Linked DNA regions of Homo sapiens. The protein of the gene in region 2 purifies or fractionates together with the protein of the main gene of each other region. This does not show direct contact. Each region holds a gene or a part of one and is shown on either strand. Other genes may lie near its edges.

Evidence for each region.
Region 1: the proteins of TBC1D9B (region 2) and PACC1 purify together in Homo sapiens (co-immunoprecipitation; one large-scale study listed by IntAct). This does not show direct contact.

Annotation. Positions count from the first base shown.
Region 1 is NC_000001.11:212,404,885-212,408,695, forward strand, and holds part of PACC1 (proton-activated chloride channel), read right to left. Parts: intron 1-3,811. UniProt on the Homo sapiens protein: Chloride channel gated by pH that facilitates the entry of chloride ions into cells upon exposure to extracellular acidic pH. Involved in acidosis-induced cell death by mediating chloride influx and subsequent cell swelling.
Region 2 is NC_000005.10:179,890,733-179,894,543, reverse strand, and holds part of TBC1D9B (TBC1 domain family member 9B), read left to right. Parts: coding exon 1-158; intron 159-1,076; coding exon 1,077-1,335; intron 1,336-2,957; coding exon 2,958-3,165; intron 3,166-3,811. UniProt on the Homo sapiens protein: May act as a GTPase-activating protein for Rab family protein(s).

The DNA.
Region 1 (3,811 bases), on a different chromosome or scaffold from region 2:
CAGCCTCCTGAGTAGCTGGGATTACAGGCATCTGCCACCATGCCCCGGCTAGTTTTTTTGGTATTTTTAGTAGAGATGGGGTTTCACCACGCTGGCCAGGCTGGTCTCGAACTCCTGACCTCAGATGATCTGCTCGCTTTGGCCTCCCAAAGTGCTGGGATGAGCCACAGTGTGAGCCCCTTCAGGTGTGAGCCACCACGCCAGGCCCCTTCATTAATTTTGAAGCACCTGACTCTACCATTTCTTTGGCCCTCATTCATTCATTCCAGTTAGCTCAGTTGCTCCTAGATGAGAGGCTCTCTTGCTCTAAATCTCCACTGCTCTCCCCCAGAGGACAAATAGGTACTGAGTACCTACAGTACTCATACTTCTATGGAGTCATACTTCCATACTACACTCCACACTAGGCACTGGAGTTACAGTAAAGGAGGAGAAGACAAAATCTGTGTGCCTCACAGAACTTGTAGGGCAGTGCCAAGGGATGGATAACAATTAACTGAATAATTAAACTCAATAAATGTGACCTATCAACTGTGTTAACTGTTACAAAGGAAAGCATATCACAGGGAGAAAGGGACCTCATCAGGGAAGTCAAGGAAGGCTCAGAAGGAGGGACAAGTTCTTCCTTGGGTAACCGGCCTTCTGTCTCTATATGCCTGAGTTCCTGGAGGAACTTACTCACCCTCTTTGTGGTGTCAGCACTTGGCATAACAAGTGAAGCAGTCCTTAATTGATCTGCTACAGGGAGGGGAGAATTTGGAGCAGGAAAGCTCTCATCTAGGAACAACTGAGCCAGAGTCAGAACACCTTGCGAGACAGCTCTGGGTATGGATTTGAGCCCTGCCACTCATGAGCTCTGAGCATATTCCTTAACGTCTGTGCCTTGGGTTCCTCATCTATAAACTAGGACTAACCGTTCACCTCACAGAGTGGCTGTGAAGATTACAGGATAAAGTGTATATAAAAAGCCCTATAGGCTCAGAGCAATGGCTTGCACCTGTGATTCCAGCACTTTGGGAGGTCAAGGCAGGAGGATCACTGGAGCCCAGGAGTTTGAGACCAGCCTGGGCAACACTGCATGACCTTGTCTCTAAAAATAATTTAAAAATTAGCCAGGTATGGTGGCGCATGTCTGTAGTCTCAACTACTCGGGAGGCTGAAATGAGCCATGATCACACCACTGTACTGTAGCCCAGTCCACAAAGCAAGGTCCCACCCCACAAAAAAAAAAAAAAAAAAAAAAAAAGCCCTAAAGCCCTACACAGGCCTAGTACATGAAAGCACCCCCAAAATGGCAACCACTATCACCATTACCATTATTTTTATTATTATTATTAGAAGACTCAAAGGGGCCAAGCATGGTGGCTCACGCCTGTAATCCCAGCACTTTGGGAAGCTGAGGCAGGTGGATCACTTGAGGTTAGGAGTTCAAGACCAGCCTGGCCAACATGGCAAAACCTCGTCTCTACTAAAAATACAAAAATTAGCCAGGAATGATTGCAAGTGCCTATAATCCAGCTACTCAAGAGGCTGAGGCATGAGGACTGCTTGAACTCAGGAGGTGGTGGTTGCAGTGAGCCAAGATCGTGCCACTGCACTGCAGCCTAGTTGACACAGGGAGACTGTCTCAAAAAAAAAAGAAGAGTCAGAGGCAAGAAATGAGCTCTGAGAGTTGTGTATCAGTCCATCAAATTTGAGCCAACTCACTACTGACCCAGCCAAATGGACTCCTGAGATCTGAATCTTCTGTGATTTAGAAAGGAGATGAGCCCAGCTCATCTGGTTCCCCCAAAGCAACTGGGAAGGCTACCCCAAAGCAAGTGGGAATGCTCTTGCCAGTTGATGGAACTACCCAAAATTTGCTCTGCCTGAGGCCTGGCTTCCTATTCTGATTGACCCCAGGCTTTGCAGCCCCAGGAATCTGAGGCAAAAGAGAGGCTGCTAAGGTCCAAGGACATTAGGGCCACCTCCTGATTTACCTGGGCACTTCTCTATGAAAGGAAACACAAAGACAAGCCTCATCTTTCCAAGTCTGGCCTCCCTCCTCTTCTTTCTCCTGCCTCCATCTATGCACTTCTGGTTGGGGGCAAGAGGGTAGTGCAAGGTGTGGTAGGCAGAATAAAGGCTCCCAAAGATGTCCAAGTGTTAATCCTTAGAACCTGTGAATATGTCAAGTTGCATGGAAAAGGGGAATTAGGGCAGCAAATGGGACTAAGGTTGCTAATCAGCTGACTTTAAAGCAGGGAGATTATCCTGGGTTACCTGGGTGGGCCCGATGTGATCACAAAGGCCCTTTAAACACAGAAAAGGGAGGCAGGAGAGTCAGCATCAGAGTGATGTCATGTGAGAAAGACTCGACGAGCCACTGCTGGTTTTGAAGCTGCAGGAAGGGGCCACAAGCCAAGGAATGCAGGAGGCCTCCAGAAGCTAGAAAAGGCAAAGACCAAGTTCTCTCCTCAAGCCCCTAGAAAGGAATTCAGGCCTGCTGACAGCTTAATTTTAGCCCAGTGAGATCCATTTTGGACTCCTGACCTCCAGAACTATAAGATAATAAATTTGTGTTTTTTTAGGCCACTAAGTTTTTGGTAATTTGTTATAGAAACAATAGAAAACTAATATACAGGTCTTTCAAGTTGTTCTCCCGGGAGCCTTAGGGCTTTAGAGGCAATGCCTCATGTCAGAGGGAGGATTAGCCGTGCTACTATCTTTTACATATTGGGCTTTAATAAAAGAATGCTTATTGTTTTGTGTGAGTGTTTTTGGTTTTTGTCTGTTTGGTAGAGGCAGGATCTCATTTTATTGCTAAGGCTGGTCTCAAACTCCTGGCCTCAAGAGATCCTCCCATCTTGGCCTCCCAAAGTGTTGGGATTACCACCACTTAAAATAGTTTTTATAAACCACTGATGTAGGCCAGGTGCGGTGGCCCACGCCTGTAATCCCAGCACTTTGGGAGGCTGAAGTGGGCGGATCACCTGAGGTCATGGGTTTGAGACCAGCCTGGCCAACATGGTGAAACCCCATCTCTACTAAAAATAAAAAAGTAGCTGGGTGTGGTGGCACACGCCTATAGTCCCAGCTACTTGGGAGGCTGAGGCAGGAGAATCACTTGAACCTGGGAGGCAGAGGTTGCAATGAGCCGAGACTGTGCCACTGCACTCCAGCCTGGGTGACAGAGTGAGACTCCATCTCAAAAAAAAAAAAAAAAAGAAAACACCACTGGTGTAGTAGAGAGAGTTTAGGGTTGGGCAGAGTTTGACTCAGTCTGTGTTTACCAGCTATATGACCTCCCCATGCTTTACTCAACCTCCCTGAGGTTGGGGGCCTCATCTGTAAAAGGGGGATAACCACTTCACAGGGTTGATGTGAGAATTAAATGGGGCAAATGGGGTACGACAGATCCTGGCACAGGAGAAGCAGTCAGGAAATGTTAGCTGCCCTTCCAGCCTCCTTCCTTCCAGGCAGTCTTTTTTTACTTTATTTTATTTTTTTTTTTGAGGCAGAGTCTCACTCTTGTCACCCAGGCTAGAGTGCAGTGGCATGATCTCGTCTCACTGTAACCTCCGCCTCCTGGGTTCAAGCGATTCTCCTGCCTCAGCCTCCCAAGTAGCTGAGATTACAGGCATGTGCCACCACACCTGGCTAATTTTTGTATTTTTTAGTAGAGACAGGGTTTCACCATGTTGGCCAGGCTGGTCTTGAACTCCTGACCTCAGGTGATCCACCTGCCTCAGCCTCCCAAAGTGCTGGCATTACAGGCATGAGCCACCGTGCCCGGTCCCTTCCATGCAGTCTTCTGTAAGGAGCAGGCAGA
Region 2 (3,811 bases):
TGAGCTGAAGATGCGGAAGCAGTTTGGGATGCCTGAGGGCGAGAAGCTGGTGAATTACTACTCCTGCAGCTACTGGAAGGGCCGCGTGCCCCGGCAGGGCTGGCTGTACCTGACGGTCAACCACCTGTGCTTCTACTCCTTCCTGCTGGGGAAGGAAGGTGAGCCCGCCCCTCAGTGTGCCCCAGCCCCCACACCCTCAGCCCCTCCCTGCCTTCGGCCCCCAGATACTCCATCCCCACATGGCCACCAGAGGGGTCTCCCTGAAACCCAAATGCCACCTTAGCGGCCCAAGATGGGACTGTCCGGCCTTGGCCAGGCGTACACCTGCTCCCAGCCGACTTTTACCATGCCCCCCACTCGCTAGTAGGGTTCTCTACATGGTGACTCCGCGTGCCTGCCCTGCCCTCTTCTGCTGAACTGGCGTATTCAGGCACACGTCTGTCCCAAATTCCTGGTGATTCCATGTCATGCAATGCCTTGGGTGCGTGCCACAGCCCTCATCTGCTGCAGGTTCCTCCCTACAGACATCCCGGCCACAGGATGCGAGCCTGATTTCCCAGCAGCTCCAGAAAGAGCCCCAGGGTCTTAGCCATCCCCAAGCCCACCAAGCCCTCCTCCCTCCTTGCCTCCCTCAGCCCACAGCCTCCCTGTGCCCCCTCCTGCCCTTGCCGCTTACCTGTCACGACCAGGTGGCCAGTCACCTCCCGTCAGCAGGGGCTGTGTCCTGTTCTGTGTTGGCCGCGCTGTGCTGTGACTGTTCACACCTCCGTGCGCTCCCACTTGGGGGAGCTGCTGGGTGGGTCTCGGTGGTTCACCTCCGCACGTTCGTTCCTTTCCCCTTCAGCCACTGGTGGGGGAGACACTCACCGTGTGTGGTTGGTCTGGAAGGCAGTGGACACCTCAGTGGCCTGGTCCCTCCACATGGAGGGCGTGACACAGCCCAGACAGGCCTGGGCACACAGGAAGTGCTGCCCCCAGAGAGCAGTTCCCTGGGATGGGTCTGGGGTACAGATGGGCATCAGGAGCCTCGCCCTGCCAGGCCCTAACTTGCGGTGTGTCTATCTCTGTGGGCACAGTGAGCCTCGTGGTGCAGTGGGTGGACATAACGCGTCTGGAGAAGAACGCCACCCTGCTCTTCCCCGAGAGCATCCGTGTGGACACCCGCGACCAGGAGCTCTTCTTCTCCATGTTCCTCAACATCGGCGAGACCTTCAAGCTCATGGAGCAGTTGGCCAACCTGGCCATGCGGCAGCTGCTGGACAGCGAGGGCTTCCTGGAGGACAAGGCCCTGCCTAGGCCCATCCGGCCACACAGGAACATCTCAGCCCTGAAGCGGTGCGTTGCCCTCCAGGGCTGGGGTGGGCTCATGTGAGCCAGGTTCGCTGACCTTGGCTGGGACCTGCCTGGTCCAAGTGTGTAGACCTGGAGAAGGTGTCCACATTCACCCCTCATGGGCTCCCCACTTGGGAAGGAAGCCAGGTAAACAGATCATTGCAGTCCCGTGTGGAGAGGCAGCAGGAGATAGCAGTGATGTCCTGAGGATACCACTAATGGGGAGGAAGCTCTTCACACTTTATTCCTCTTGGCCCTATGATGGGAAGGGGCTCTTACCATCCCTAGGTATCAGACAAGGAAGCTGAGGCACAGAGAGGTTAAGTAACTTGCCTGAAGTCCCTCGGTTAGTGAGCAGTGGAGCCAGGATGTAGCCACCTCAGCCAGGGTGTTCTGACACCCCCAGAAAGGCTTTGGTAAATCTGGGCTCAAGTGCACGGCCTCCGTCCCACCGTGATTGACAGCTCTCCTGTATACCCTGAGACTCCTTGGCCAGAGGCCTCTCACAGCCATGGGACCCCCAGGGGTCCTGAGTTTGACGTGGAAGCAGACCTCTGGGTCTGAAGCCAGCCAAGGAGATGGGCCATGTGTGGGTCTGAGTTCCCTGCTGCCCTGTCCAGGGGACCGATAGGCAGGAACACATCATAGCAGCCAGCCCTCCCGGGCTACTTAACGTTTGGGTTCCTAGGTTGTAGCTTATGGGAAACTCCAGAGGCTGGACAAGATCTCTGAGGTTCCCTGGGTCCCACAGCCAGCCTGACCACAGCCAGATTCACACCCTTGTGTTGAGCGACCTCATTCCAGCCAGGCCATTTCCTGCATTGCACCCACAGACTGTGGTCCAGGCCCAAACTCTGGGGTCCACCTCCAGGACCAGAAAATTGTGCAAGCATGTTGTCCTTGGGATGCAAGTGACAGGTTGGCTTGTTGGACCTTTTGGAAAGAACACGAGCAGAGATGGAACATGACTGCTCCTGGCACTGCCGGTGAGAATGCAGTCAGGCCCTGGTCAGGCCACTGCGGCCCAGGGCAGGCAGGAGGCTCCCTTTGGGGCTGGGAGAGTTTATGTGGACAGAGCCACCAAAGGGGTGAGGGCCTGGGCCAGGCCACTGTCACAGCCATCAGATACACAGGTGTGCATTTCTGTTAGCAGCCGCATGCTTTAGTTTAAGCTCCACACCTCCCTGTGGGGAGCTCCTCACCTAGGTTTCAAGGTGAAACCTGGGGTTAGGCCTGCCCAGGGTGGAAGAGCTGCCCGGGGCCCTCCATCTGAGTGGGATCCAGGGCAGGTGCTCTGGGCTCTGCTTGCCCATCAGTACCGAGGGATGGGTTGCACATTGCCCAGGCCAGCATCTAGGTGTGTCCTTTTCAAAGCAGTCTCAGGACACATTGCTTGCTGGCCACTTCTCCGCTGGTTATGTGACTGTCTCACCTTCTGCCTGCTCACTCAGCATGCATCTTTTATTGAACTCTGAGGTCCCTGAGCATGACTTGCTCAAGGGACCACCCCAGGGATCCTGAATCTGATGTGGAAACAGGCCTGGGGAGGCCCCAAGGCTTCCTTGAGAGTGTGCTGGTCCTGACCTTGTCCCCTTTCCTCCTGTCCTCCTACCTTGTTTCCCCAGAGACCTGGACGCCCGAGCCAAGAATGAGTGCTACCGAGCCACGTTCCGGCTGCCCAGGGATGAGCGGCTAGACGGCCACACAAGCTGCACCCTGTGGACGCCGTTCAACAAGCTGCACATCCCTGGCCAGATGTTCATCTCCAACAACTACATCTGCTTCGCCAGCAAGGAGGAGGACGCTTGCCACCTCATCATACCCCTGAGGGAGGTCAGCATCCCCTAGTTGAGAGGCCAAGGCCTTTCCAGCCCCGAGGTGTCAGTGGGCTCAGGGACCAGCCTGTCCTGCTCTGCCCTGTCTCACTGGGGGGTACCTGGGAGGATGCCCTAGCCCAGGCAGTCACATGTCACTCAGTGATGGGACAGGTGGAGGGTGTAGGACAAGTGAGCCCCTCCACAGGCACCTGCCCTGTTGGGGAGGCAGGTAACATGGTGGGGGCACACTGCTTGCCCTCTCAGGTCACTTGCCTAGTGGAGACAGGGTCTCCCACGCGTGAGTTTCCATCAGGCCTGCCTTCTGGGCCCTGCAGGGCAAAGTGCTGCTCCGTGGCTGCGCTTAGAGGACCGTGTTCCTGCACCGGTCCCATATGTCACTCTCAGAGGCCACCTCACCAGTCCTCTCTGGACATACCACCTTGGCGTGGCTCGGCTCCAGCAGGCCATCAGAGGTCGGCTCTCCCCTGTGGGGCGGCGTCGGCTCTCCCCTGTGAGGCTGCATTGGCTCTCACTTGCTCCTTCTTGGGTTTCTTGGACTTCCACAGTGACCCTGGTGGGAGCAAGGCCATCTGTCCTGCACTGCACCGAAGGGGTGTGGACAGCAAGGACAAGGGCCCTTGCCCAAATAGAAGGCATGAGAC